Homo sapiens: one gene and its partner. The protein of the gene in region 1 purifies or fractionates together with the protein of each later gene. This does not show direct contact. Each region holds a gene or a part of one and is shown on either strand. Other genes may lie near its edges.

What was found.
Region 2: the proteins of SIK2 (region 1) and PPP2R2B purify together in Homo sapiens (co-immunoprecipitation; 2 studies listed by IntAct, with this or other methods). This does not show direct contact.

Annotation. Positions count from the first base shown.
Region 1 is NC_000011.10:111,605,447-111,612,474, forward strand, and holds part of SIK2 (serine/threonine-protein kinase SIK2), read left to right. Parts: intron 1-890; exon of another isoform or gene 891-1,299; intron 1,300-7,028. UniProt on the Homo sapiens protein: Serine/threonine-protein kinase that plays a role in many biological processes such as fatty acid oxidation, autophagy, immune response or glucose metabolism.
Region 2 is NC_000005.10:146,644,758-146,651,785, forward strand, and holds part of PPP2R2B (serine/threonine-protein phosphatase 2A 55 kDa regulatory subunit B beta isoform), read right to left. Parts: intron 5,968-7,028; coding exon 5,790-5,967; intron 1-5,789. UniProt on the Homo sapiens protein: The B regulatory subunit might modulate substrate selectivity and catalytic activity, and might also direct the localization of the catalytic enzyme to a particular subcellular compartment.

The DNA of each region.
Region 1 (7,028 bases):
GCAGAACATACTACAGTAGTTATAGTGGAACAATGAATATGGTATAAAAATAATATCAGCAAAATATCACAATTATACTTATTGACGATAAAAGTTTCTTTATATACTATGCTTTAACATCGATACAAGTTTGTGTGTTTTAAAACTTAGAGGTCTTTTTTCCCAAGTTTGACTCTGAGGCAAATTTTAGGGCTTAATCATCTATGTAATGAGCAATTAGGACCCTTTTATTTTTAACTGGTTCTTCTCTGTCTCTTGTTCTATATCACTCACAAATGATGTATTTCTACAGAACTTGGGAGATTCAAGTCTGTTTCCCTTTTAGGAAAAAAATAGTGGACAAAAGAGATCTTCGTTTTGGTCGAATCTATCAAACAGTTTAACATTGTTTATGAAATATAATTACATCATCATCTGAAGTGGTATTGTGTTAGATCTCGATGTGAATTTTGCATCCAAAGGGGAAGACAGGTGGTGGTAGAATCCAGCTTCCTAATACGCTTTGCAAAGGCTTTGTAGTATTAGTTTGTGGTTTATGAATTAGAGATGCTAATTTTATAAAATTAGCATAATGGGAAAAGAATAATAGCATGTCAGCTGTTAAACTTTGAGGCAATAGTGGTTGCTTGTTTGCTATTCAGTGAGTGTCCTTGAGTAGTTTATTTTATCAATACTATACAGTATTAGGAAATAACTTTTTCCTTCTAGTTAGTGGTATAGCTAGTTTTTTGTCTCTTAAGTAAAATTCTAGAAAAGCCAATTGTATCCTTAAATGTTTTTGTATTCTATTTAAGAAACAGTTTCTTTCTTGTTGCTTTCAGGACAAAAGAAAGAAAAATAAATAAAGAAGTAGTCTCTTATTATAATATAAAAAATAAGAGTATAGTGAACAAAAAAGTATACATATAATTCCTCCACTAATGGGAATAACCCATTCTTAACATTATGGCACTAGTCTTTTTATTTAAATGCATTTTTTCCATAGATGAAAGCACATGGTACATATATATAAATTATGTTCTTTTTTCTACTTAATATTATAACCTAGGCGTTTTGTTTATTATATATAACTTTATAAAAACATTTTTGTTAGCTGCATGGTGTTCTACCTTGTGGATGAATATCGTTTTACCTAACAATTCCCTTATTAATGAATATTATGCAATTTTCAGTTTTTGTTTATAGTAAATAATACGCAGTGAATATTTTTGTGCCTATAACTGAGTGTGCATTTTACATTTTTTTTAGGGAGGAGAAATTGCTGGTAAAGTCCTAAAAGGAAATTTCCTAAGTAACAAGGTATTATTTTTACATTAAAGAGTAGTGTATTTTTATTACCAAATCTGTCGTGTTTATTATTGAGAAATTTAAAAGTATAAATAGGAGGCCAGGCTAGATGGCTGACACCTGTAATCCCAGCACAGTGGGAGGCCAATGCAGATGGGTTGCTTGAGGCCAGGAGTTGGAGACCAGCCTGGTCAATATAGCAAGACCCAGTCTCATTAAAAAGAAAAAAAAAAAAACTTATAAATAAATGAAAAGAATTCCCCATAAAATCACAACCCCAAAGATAACCATAACTAGTTATTTTCAGACCTTTTCTATAATAGATAACTTGAGTTTTCCTCAACACCATATACCTCTCATATTGCTTAGCTAAAGAGCATGTAAATGTATAGTCTGTGGAATCATAAAGATATTTCATAGAGGTTCTAAAAATGACCTTATTAAAATGGCATGTGGGTGTCAGGCTGCTTACTTACCCTTAAGAGAACTTGGAATGCAAAACTGATAACAAGGACATTTTGAAAACTGTATTTGTTTGCTAAAAAGCTTTCCATGTGCATTTTGGGGATTTTATAGTTAGGCCTAATTCTTTACCACCTTAAAATGTAAGATTTTTAAAAGGTTTTCAGAATTGTTAAGGTATTAAAATTGCATTTTTATAGCAAAGTCAGAAACAAGAGAAAGGCATATTACACCCTGATTATGATGTTTCTTGAAGAGAACTCATTTTAAAAATACATTTGAATTTTCTATTTTGCTTTAAAATTTTAAGACTCCTTTCAGTAGTCTTGGTATTAATCTTGTACTGTGAAATATTCCAGATTTCAAGAAGCAACTGTACTATGTGCAACAGAAGGACTTGTTACCAAATAACTCAATCGCTAATATTTGTATCTAGTCTTATGTATGATCTTTAATTTTGTATTGAAATAAAATTGTATTTGTCATGGAATATATATACTTTCATAGAATTTTTCTGTAGTTTTTGGCACCCCAGACAAATAGTATTTGTCAAAGTATTCTGCTAACTATTGTTCAAAATGATCTGCTCTTTTTTGGGAGTGGGAACAAACATGCAAAATAAGAGTTGTGTAAATGTTTATATTCTGTAGAAATTTTAACTTTAACAGAGTTTAATGTGTTCTGATTTTAAACCCTCTGGGAAATACTATCTCAGTACCAGTCAATTAAGAAAACAATTATTTGGAAATAACTGAAACTGGCCTATCTTCTTGGATTCACATGATGACATTTGATTTATGACCCACTGCTGATGGCAGATTCATTTCCTTGGAGGCAAATGGGTTCCAGAATTCATTAGGATATCGTTCTTTCCGCTTTAATGTACCTAGTACCTCTTCTACCTTCCACCTCCATCTTTTCGAAATAAATTATATAAAACTTTCTTTATTCAGAACATTGGTGTAGAATACTTTCCCATCCTTCACAGAGAAATAGCCTATATATCCATTTTGAGATATTAGAAGATCGAAAGATAAACTTGGAAATTCCATCAGAAACTTCATTTTAAAAAAATTTTTAAATACTTTAAACAGATTAAGAGATGAATATTGGATGAATTAAACTGAGAAACAATACTAAAATTTATTTTAAGTTCTTCTTGAAAGTAAACATAGTATTGATATGGTTTCCCCCAGTTATAGAAGTCAATGCATCTTCATTGTAAACATTGTTGAAAAGCCCAAAGAAGAAGATTAACATCCTTACTTCCACTCTCCAGACCCAGAGATAATGCCTGTTAATATTTGGTTCATCTTCTTCTAGTTATTCACATATATTTTATATGTATGTAATAAAATTGATGTCATGTATGCATATAATCTGTGTTTTTTACTTAACATGTTGTTAACATTTCCGTAAGTTTGAAAACTATGTAAAGCATAGTTAAATAGTATTTGTGCATTTGACTATCCATATTTTATTTAATCAATTTCCTATTACTGAACATTTAGTCTATTTCCATCTTCCTGTCTCTCTTTCTAAAATAATGTTTCAGAGGGCATCCCTCTACATACATCTTTGTGCATGTATCTAATTATTTCCTCAGTGTAATTGCCTAGCAATGGAATTCTTGGGTCAAGGAGTATGTACATTACCTATCTTACGGTGTAGGATGCCAAATTACCCTCCAGAAAAGGAGTACCCGTTAATTTTCACCAGGAAGAACTCATATTTTGCAGGAATATTATTTTCTAAATCTCTGCCAACTTGATAGCAGAAAATAATATTCTTCATTACTTTTAAATTTTTTTCTATTTTTATTTTTAATTAACAAATACATGTTTACATTTTGTTACTTCAATTTGCATTTCTTTAATTACTTTGTACAGTTTTATATGATGATGATTTGCATTCCTTTTATAAATTTTTTTGTCCTTTGACCCATTTAATTGCATTGTCTTTTTTGTTGATTTGTTTAAATACTTTTTAAGATAGGGGATTATTTTTAATCACTTCTTTAATCATCTTAAAAATTCTCAGTTTAATTTTTGTGAGTATATAACTATCGGACCATTTACCTTTTCCCCCAATCTGTTTTTCCTACCCACTATTATAAAAGTCAAATCAATTTTTTTTTTGGGGGGGGGACAGGGTCTCACTCTGTCACCCAGGCTGGAGTACAGTTGCGAGATTACACCTCACTGCAGCCTCCACCTCCCAGGCTCAAGTGATCTTCCCACTTCAGCCTTCCAAGTAGCTGGAACTACAGGTGCACACCACCATGCCTGGCTAATTTTTAAATTTTTTGTAAAGACAAGGTTTTGCCATGTTGCCCAAGCTGTTCTTGAACTCCTTGGCTCAAACAGCCCTCCCACCTTGGCCTCCCAAAGTGCTGGGATTACAGGCATAAGCCACCATACCCAGCCTTCAAATTAAATCCTAATGAGAATTTATTATTTGAATAATTTTAAAAGCCAAATTTACATTGGAAAAAAGTCTCCTTTTTATTTATTCTGAGAGGGTAACTAGAGAATTCTCTATTTTACTACTGACTTTTACTGCTTTCAGAAAGTCTTTCATTATAGACCACTCAATCACACTTGCTTTTCAATCAAATGATAGGCTAGTAGGTTGTAATTCCACCAATGATTTGTTGTATAAGCTGAAAGTTGTATTTATTTTTTAATTTCAAAGGTCTAATGTATGGTATGATAGAGCTAATGTTACTTGGTACTTCAGAAGGACAGTGTAGAATTAGTATATTAGTAATAGGACTGGAGTAAATATTATCTAAGACAAGAAACACATGTTAATCCCTTGTAATTTGTTATTAGAAGAATAGCTCTTATTTGTAACTTCTTTATAAAATCTCCAAAAGCTACTTTTTTTGGCTTTAATCTGTGGATTTATAGAACCCAAAAGCAACTTTTGTATATGTGGTTTCTTTAAATGAGATTAGTATTTCTTTTATGAGAAGTTAATTTGTTTTTCTAAAATCAAAGAGACAGGATAGGCCAGGCATGGTAGCTCACGCCTGTAATCCCAGCACTTTGGGGGGCCGAGGCGGGTGGATTGCTTGAGGTGACGAGTTTGAGACCAGCCTGGCCAACATGGTGAAACCCCATCTCTACTAAAAATACAGAAATTAGCCTGGCGTGGTGGTGCATGCCTGTAATCCCAGCTACTTGGGAGGCTGAGGCAGGAGAATCACTTTGAACCCTGGAGGCAGAGGTTGCACTGAGCTGAGATCGCACCACTGCACTCCAGCAGTGACAGAGCAAGACTCTGTCTAAAAAAAAAAAAAAAAAGATAACAAACAGTTTGAAAAATGAAAAAATTCCATTTATTCATCAGTTTAACACTTTTTACATTTCTGCTCTTACATTTAATTCTTTGTCCTCCTGTATAAAATTTGTATTTTACATAGTTGTTACTTTCATAGTGTTTTTTAAAATTTCACATTGTTAGAAACATTTCTGTATATATGGTCTTCTTAATATTTAAATCATAAAATAATATAGCCATTTTCTAAAGAATTTTGAAAATGAGAAAATGAAAACTAATATATCTCAGAGAATTAGTATATGATAAATAACTGTCATTGTTCTGGGTTTTTTCTTATTAGAAAAATAATACATGTTCACTGAAGAAAAATTGCACAGAAAAGTACAAAGCAGTTTTTTGTCATCTTTTTCTACTCATACCTTATGCTGAGACTGCACTGATATCTCAGTTTTCTAATACTCTATTGATTATATGTACACATAAGGCTGGGTGAGGTGGCTCACACCAGTAATCCCATACTTTTTGGAGGCCAAGGCAAGAGGATTACTTGAGCCTAGGAGTTTGAGACCAGCCTGGGCAACATGGTGAAACCCACTCTCGACCAAATGTGTGTGTGTGTGTGTGTGTGTGTGTGTGTGCACACCTGTAGTCCCAGCTTCTTGGGAGGCTGAGGTGGGAGGATCATTTGAGCCTGGGAGGCAGAGGTTGCAGTGAGCTGAGATCGCGCCAGTGCACTCCAGCCCAGGCAACAGAGTGAGACCCTGTCTCAAAAAAAAAAAAAACTACACATAAATCTTTGTCCTCATTTCAGATTATTTCCTTCAAATAACTTCTCAGAAGAGTCCTTAAGCTACATGGAATGGATGATTTTTAAGGTTCATAATAAAGACTACTAAATTGCTTCCCAGAAAAATTATAATCTATTTTATATTCCTACTAACTATCTGAAACAAACATCTCACTGAACTTTAGCTGACCAGGTTATTTATTTTTTAATCTTTATAAATATAATAAGTGAAAATGGTATTTTGTTTTTAATTCATATTTCCCTGAGTATTTTGAAGTTGAATATTCAATGTTGCTACTTTATGTGGGATTTAGTTTGATAGTAATCATTCTAGTTTGTCCTAATGTTCTTCAGTTTATACAGGAAACCTTTATTCAGTCCTTTAGTAGAAGGAGTATTCATTTTTCTGTCATATAAATTTATTGAAAGTTTTTTTAAGATAATGTATATATAATGATTAGAGAGTTGAATAGATGAACACCACCAAAAAAGGGGATCTTTCCATTCGTGGAGTTCCTTTCTTGACCTACTTTCTTGTTACCATGCAGATTTTGTCTCTTATACTATGTTGAGAACTAAATAAGAGAAGGGATATAGAGAGGAAGTTCCCAGAAATCTAAGTTCATTCTAATCCTTAAAAGGAACTATTGGAACACAACCCTTTTGCAAATTAAGGACTTTCAGTGCACCTTTGGGGAAATCCCCAAATACTTTTTTTTTTGTTGGTAAAATGTGTTCATCTTCTTCTTACATACCTATTAAATTGTTGAGGGTAGGAATCAAATCTCATTCATTTTTATATCCCAGGCATAATTCCTGGCACACAACAGATGCTGTGTAATGTATTACTACAAGACCCTTTGAAATAGTGAAAAGATTAAAGTTGGAGTTAGAAGGCCTAGGGTTTTTCTTCCTTAATTCATTAGAGCTTTAAGACCTTTGTTGATTATGTGACATTATTTGAACCTCAGTTTCAACTCATGAGTGTACTGCTTGTTTCATTTACTTCACAGAATTGGGAAATAAATGAGATAAAATATGCTGAAGTATCTTTAAAAATGCTGTGCAGTTGTGAAAGTCATCACCATTGTTAGTATTATACATATTTCTGGGAAGTACTTGATAGAGAGCTCCATTGTTAAGAAATTACTTGGATGAGTTTGGCAGACTGCTAGCTGATCATTGAAAACTCTGCTGTTTCCTCTTC
Region 2 (7,028 bases), on another chromosome or scaffold:
ATTAAACAAGATAATGGAAAAGATAATTTAAGTGGTTTTACACTGGAGTGAATATTCCTTCTTCTGAAGGAAGCACATATTTCTCCAAGGATAGGGTTTATATGCATTGCCTTTGTGAGGTGACTTTCATATGCCTCTGTCCCTTTGCTGCTGATTTTGCTAATACTGACATGCGTATTTCCCCAATTCCTGTCTAAGCCAATGGAGGATAAGAGAGCCAAGTAGGACGCTTTTCTGCAGGGCTGAGTATTATAAACATTGGCCAAGCTGAAGAGTGGAATCTATGTTTACCAGGGTAAAGTACCCACATTCAAAAGCAGCTGAGGCTTTTCATATCCCACTTAAAGTCTGCCAGTACTGAAGGTAGAAAATAGTAATATCTTTGTGTGAACACAGCGTATTTGTTTGATGAGTGTGATTTCCTTTTAGGGACATGAGTTGCTTTGAGATCTTTTTCCCTTTCCATGGTCTAAATTTAATCTTTGGATATTAAGCAATGATTATGAAACATAAAGATCTTATTAGCTGAAAGGACATGTTGCTTGATGATGAGACACTGGAAATCTCCAAAGAGGACTCCAAGGGATATTCCTCTCTTAAGAGCTTAAAAAAAAGTCAATGTGTAAATATTCATGGAGTGTTTGCCAATTCCTAGGCTCAATATGAGGAGACTGACAAAGAGACACATGGTGTCATATTAAATATGTATTGGGCAGGGTGAAAGCCACTGAAGCAGCAACAGGGGAGAAACTTGTACTAGACCCCACAGTTCCCCTGGAAGCCTGCCTGGCAGAATCCCACTGAATTAAAAGGAAGCTGCTGTCCATGGTAGTAATGAGTGCTAGAACCTGGAAGCCAAGAGTTGAGGCTACCTGGTCCCTTAATTAGGGAATCGACTCTAACAGGGCTTCAGCTTGGTTGACAAATAAAATGAAGCCACTGTACAGGGTTGTTAGGACCAAGGTCAAAGTTGAAGTATCCCTAGAGTCCAGCTGGCTTCTCCCAGATAAGTCCTCTATCTCATATTCAGAGACTGGACTTCTGAAAGGTGAGGCTTCTGCTACCCTTCCCAGCCTTGCTTACTCCATGCTCCACTTCACTCTCTGGGCTTCAAAAATAGTGGCCTTCTTAGAATTCCTCCAACATGTCATACTCTCTCCTGCCACAGGACCTCTGTACACACTGAACACATGTCTCCACACCTCTTTGCCAAGTTAGTTCATAGTCTTCCTCTTTCAGATCTTAACTAATTCTTCAGCAAAGCCTTCCCTGGTCTATAGCAGGATTTTTAAAAATGCATTCATAGAACCATATTCCCTGTCTTCACAGAAATTATCTCAGTTTGTAATTATATACTCAGTGTATTTGATGAACATTACTCTGAAAGCGGCAAATTTGTTTTTTCCCATTTTCATGCCTGGCACAAACTAGGTGCTCAATTTATCATCGTTGAGGGCTAGTCTTTATTTTTACTCGATATGGGCCTATTTAATAGATCCCATGTTGGACAAGGTAAGAACTCAGGTCAGTTCATTCTTAGTCCTGCAAAAAGAGTTCAAAGGATTCTAGGTATACCATAGTTTTCATAAAGAAGCAACATCTTTTAATATAAATTTTCATTTATTGCTATTGTCTCTTGCCCTAGAAAACTACTAATCTATTAATGAGTTGTTATAGTCCTGATGTAGTTAGCCTATTAAGACGAAAGTTTGACTGCTTATGTGGGAAACTGTTACACAAGACAAGGACAGACTGGCTATGGATGGAAGGGAGAGAATTCATGACCAGTTATCATGAGGTTTAGAAATGCCTTGCTCTGATCTGGTGCTAAACACAAGGCCCTAGACCTCAGAGTTCCTGAAAACATTTAGTAACTAGGGGGCAGCATCTTGCAAAGGACACCCAACTGCAGAACCAAAGGAAGAGTCTAGAATTGAAAAGACAATCCAGATAATAAAATTAGCAGAATAAAAGCTACCATTCTAATGTTCAACTTTTCTAGTTTCCTTGTTCTCTCAATAATTATCATGATTGTGCTAGTCCTGTTTACTGAGCATTTGCTTAGCAAGGCACTACCCTAAATGTGTGCGTGCGTATGTGTGTGTGTGTGTGTTTAATTTTCATAATCCTCTCGTGATAGAGCTGCTTTCTACAGATGAACAAAATGAGAAATGGAGGCTTGGATAGATTAAGAACATGTTAAAGCTTATACAGCCAGAAAAGTGGTAGGGCTGGGTGAGACCTCTATCACTTGTTGGACTCTGAAGCCTGAGTTCTCAACCGTAATGCCAAAGTCACACCAAATGCCAGTCACAGGAAGTCATGACTGTTTTCTAACCATATCTCCAGATCCCTTGTCTCACTATTTACTTAATGCTTTACATACACTTACTTTGTAATCTAAATAGATTTTGAATATCTATGAAATTGTAGGATATGATGGTTATGTTTTTTGACGTTCACTATTGCTTAGAAGCACATTGCTTACCATCCCCAGTAGTAGCCACACTATGCTTTGGGAATCCCAAATTATTCTATCCTGAACCATGTTTCTTCTGTCTCCTTTGTGAATAAGGGGCATTGTGGAAATGAGACCTGCCTGGTGGCTGGTATTTTTCTGAGACTGTTTTGAAAGATGGCCGCTTCCTACCCCAGAGGTGGCTATACTTCAGTGATGAGAGGCTCAGTGCTTAGGGCGGTCTGGTTGAAAAGAACTATATAGATATCACTTATCATCGTTCTCATGATGACAATGATTATTTTACATATGGCTGCTTTAAGGGTGAATGGCACGGTCTCATTTGTATGCCAGCATCTGGCAGTCTGTCACACATCTGCAGAATATAACCTAAACTGCGCTGTTAATATTTCCCCTTTGCATTCTCCCCAAGGCATCTGTCTCCCAAAATGCCTAAAGAAACTCCCCTCCCCCTTGAAGGCCTAGAGGCAAAATTCAGAAAACATGTCACCTAGACTGGGGAAGCAGAAGCTCAGAGTGACAGCCAGCTGAGCCTGAGCAGATTTCTGGCTCTTGGAATAGATGGAGAGAGAAAAAGGGAACCACCACCCACACTCATTCTATTAGCAGCTGCACTGCCAGGCAAAATCTGTAGGCAGGCCCAGACAGCATGTGGAGTCTGTTCCGTGATCAACAAAATATGCCAGGCATGGTCCTGATGGTCAGTTCTCATTGTCTCCAAATATATCTCATAATTGCCACTATCTGATTAAAGCTGCCTTCCCTGAAAGCCCTTGGAGACGGTTGAGTGCTCTCCATGGTGGAGACTAGCTAGCTGTGTACCAAAACCGGGTCTTTTTATCCTGGGCACACAGCCAGACTACATTTCCTAGGCTGCCTTGCAGTTAAGAGTTAGCCATGTGGCTGAATTCTAGCCAATGGAATGCATACTTTTTTAGGGCATGGCTCAGAGGAATCTCCCACTTGTGATCTTCCATGACCTTCCCCTTTTACAGTCCTGCTATAAACATGGTAACATTGGGGAGCTGCAAATGAAAGAGGCCCGAGTTTCTGAATTACTGATTGGAGGAGGCTGCCTGCTGATGGGGATCATCAATATTAGACTTCATACGAAAATAATCTTTTATTTGTTTGAGCCATTATGGGGTCTATTCTATAAACGAACCTTCAGAGCTTTACTATAACTCTTAAAATTAAATTTCCAGGTTAGATTTTATGAACTGTCTACTGGATAGCGCTACTTTGATGACCTACTATTATTTCGAACTTGACAGGTTCAATAATTTTCTGTATGTCAGAGTGTTCCACGTACTGGAATACAGCAATAGTTCATACAAGGCCCTTGCTCTTGTAGAATTTACATCCTAACATGAGGAAACCAAAAATACATAAGTAAAAAAATTTCAAATCATGGTAAGTACCATGACAATAACAGGGATAGTGTTATTGGTAGCTACTTAAGAGTTAATGGGAAAGAGTACCTCTGGGGCCTGAAGTGACATGTAACTAGCCATGTGAATGCTGTGGGCAAAATATTCTAGAAAGAGGGAACAGCAAATGCAAAGAATGGAAGAATAAGGTTTACTTAGGAACAGAAAAGTGATTAGTTGGCTGAAATGAAGTGAATTAGGGAAGCGTGACAAGACTGGATAACAAAGATGGAGACAGGTTCCAGATCACGCAGAATCTTATAGGCCAAGTTAAATAACTTGGATTTTATTCTGAGTTTAGTGGGAAGCTACTGGAATGTTTTTTATCAGGGAAGGAATGATATTTGAATTACATGTTGAAGGGTTCGTACTGTATAAAAGAGCAAGAATGAATGGAGACCAGATGAGATTATTGCAGTCACAGTGGTGAGAGACAACAGTGGCTTATGCTAGTGTAGGTAGGTAGATAGGGATATATGCGTTGATTTGACATATATTTTAGAGGCAGGGCTCATGGATAGATGGAGTTAGAGTAGGGGAGGCTGGTAAGTGGAAGAGAAAACTCCATATTGATACCTAGGTCAATTGTTCAGTTACCTGAGTTGTTCAGTGCCATTCCTCATAAATCTCATGCCTTAGGTTTGTGAGAAATGGAGCACATGATAGGTATTCAATAAATGACCAATTTTTACTATGAAATAGAGGGTCAACATAGTGGGGGTGAAAATACTGGCCCAGCTATTCAGCATTTTTTTTTTTTACCTTTCTATATATTTTTTATTTTTATTATTTTTTTGAGATGGAGTCTGGCTCTGTCACCCAGACTGGAGTGCAGTGGTACGATCTCGGCTTACTGCAACCTCTGCCTCCTCAGTTCAAGCGATTCTCCTGCCTCAGCCTCCCAAGTAACTGGGACTACAGGCGCCCGCCACCATGCCTGGCTAATTTCTTTTTTGTATTTTTAGTAAAGTTGGGGCCTTGCCACGTTGGCTAAGCTGGTCTTAAACCTCTGACCTGAAGCAATCCACCTACCTAGGCCTCCCAAAGTGCTGGGATTATAAGCATAAGCCACTGCGGCCAGCCGACTTTTCTATATTTTAATTAAACAGGAGATAATGATACTTACATTATGGGGTTGTTTTATCAAATATGTCCTTGGGGGTAGAAATTATTAATATAAAGAGGCATGATGGGGGCTTGAGAATTGTTAGCAAAGTTCTGTTTCTGGATGTCAATGCTGGTTATAGGTGAGTTCAACCTCTGAAATTTCATCAAACTGTATAATTATAATATGTATACTGTACATTTTATCAAACTGTACAATTATAATATGTATACTATACATTTCATCAAACTGTACAATTATAATATGTACTTTTCTATATGCATAATATACTTCAATGAGGTAAAAAATGTAATACTATAAAGTTCCCATTGCAAGTGCTTGGAACTCAATAAATGTCAGTCACTATTATTTTCACTATTATGAGACAATGGAAACCAGTATGTCTGTGGTCCATGCTGTCCATACAGATTTATGAATCCTTTAACAGAGAAAGAACCTGAACTCTAGGGTCTTATCCTATTGTTGATAAAATCACCTCTAATTTTAATTCGTGACATATAAATGCCTCTGTATGAAGGAATTGATTCAGAGTCCCAATCCAGAGCTAGCCCTGGCCTCCCACTTGTAATAACAATATTTCCCTAACTTTATTGTTATGATTAAAGAGTCTCATAGGTGCCAGTGTATTTTAAAAGGGGCAAGTTCTCCGCAAATGCTAGGTGTTGCATTTCTATTCCATATTTTCTCCCAGCCCACTCGCACCTGAATACTCTTAATTCAGGCCAGTTGATTCTTGATCACAAAGAAAGGATACTAAAACTTTGATTGGTTATTTCAAAGTTCCATAGGTTAATCCTCAGGTCATCAGCGGACATGTAGGTTTCATAGTCGCTGTTGACAGATATGGAGTTGATGTGATATGTGTGTGCGTTGGCAAATACTCTTCGTGGGGTGGCCTCCACCATCAGGTCCATGGGTCTCAGGACAGGCACCTGGGATGCAAGAGAAACAAATCACTTCAGAACCAAAGATCTTCCATAGGAAAAGAGTGTGCATGCTAATATCATTTATTATCACACACAAAATAATAGCCACATTGAAGAAACTCCAAGTTAGAGAAAGAAGAGGCTAATAACGAATCACACACTGTTCTTGTTCCATTCTGTTCCTCCTCTTTCAAAAGATATCACCATCACTTAGCCCTGGTGGGAAATTTCATTCTTTATAAATTCTAAACATTTTTCTAAGCCCCTCCAGGTAGCCTCATCTCAGGGGAACTTGGCTTCCATTGTGGAGTCATTACCTTCCAGAGACATTGTTCTATTTTTTTTTTAAACATGAAATCTATTTAAAAAAGGGAGTTGTGGGAAAATTTTAGAAATGTCTAGTTCAACTTTAATCTAAATTTATCTTTTATGTCTTTTCATCTCATGGCTTTGGAAGCTATACCCCTTCCTGGCTTTGTCCTTAATCCTTAAGGGCATTTTGGGAAACTTTAGCATCACCCAAGACTCTAATCGTCCAAATTCAGCCACTAATATATAGGGAACCCAATGACATCTGACTGAGAAAATCTTGGTTTATATTTGTCTTAGAGTGCGAACCAGGTAGTGTCCACTTTTACATGCAAAACTGTCCCAGTTTGAACATTAATGATATGGTCACCTTACTGATACATAAATACTTCTCAGTAAGTATTTGTTGAATGAGTAAGAATACATGATTAAATGATTTCTTTCTGGTGGATCAGAGAATCGGCAACTAAATAGTTTCCCACACATGACCGTCTTTCTGGCAAATGTGAACAAAGACCTATCACTCTTCCTCCTTTGAGTTCTGGGTGAACTGGCTACAAAGAAAGAGAATAAGAACACTAATGCCTGAGAGGGAACAAACTAAAAAAACACCCAAGACAGACAAAACCCCACAACACAGGTGTGGTCACTTAATAGAAACAAGATAATAAAATAACCAAAGCTATTTTCTTTTCAAGCAAATCATTTCTTGCAACTGAGCCCCGACTGATTTGATACCAGGTGGTAGATTAAGACTT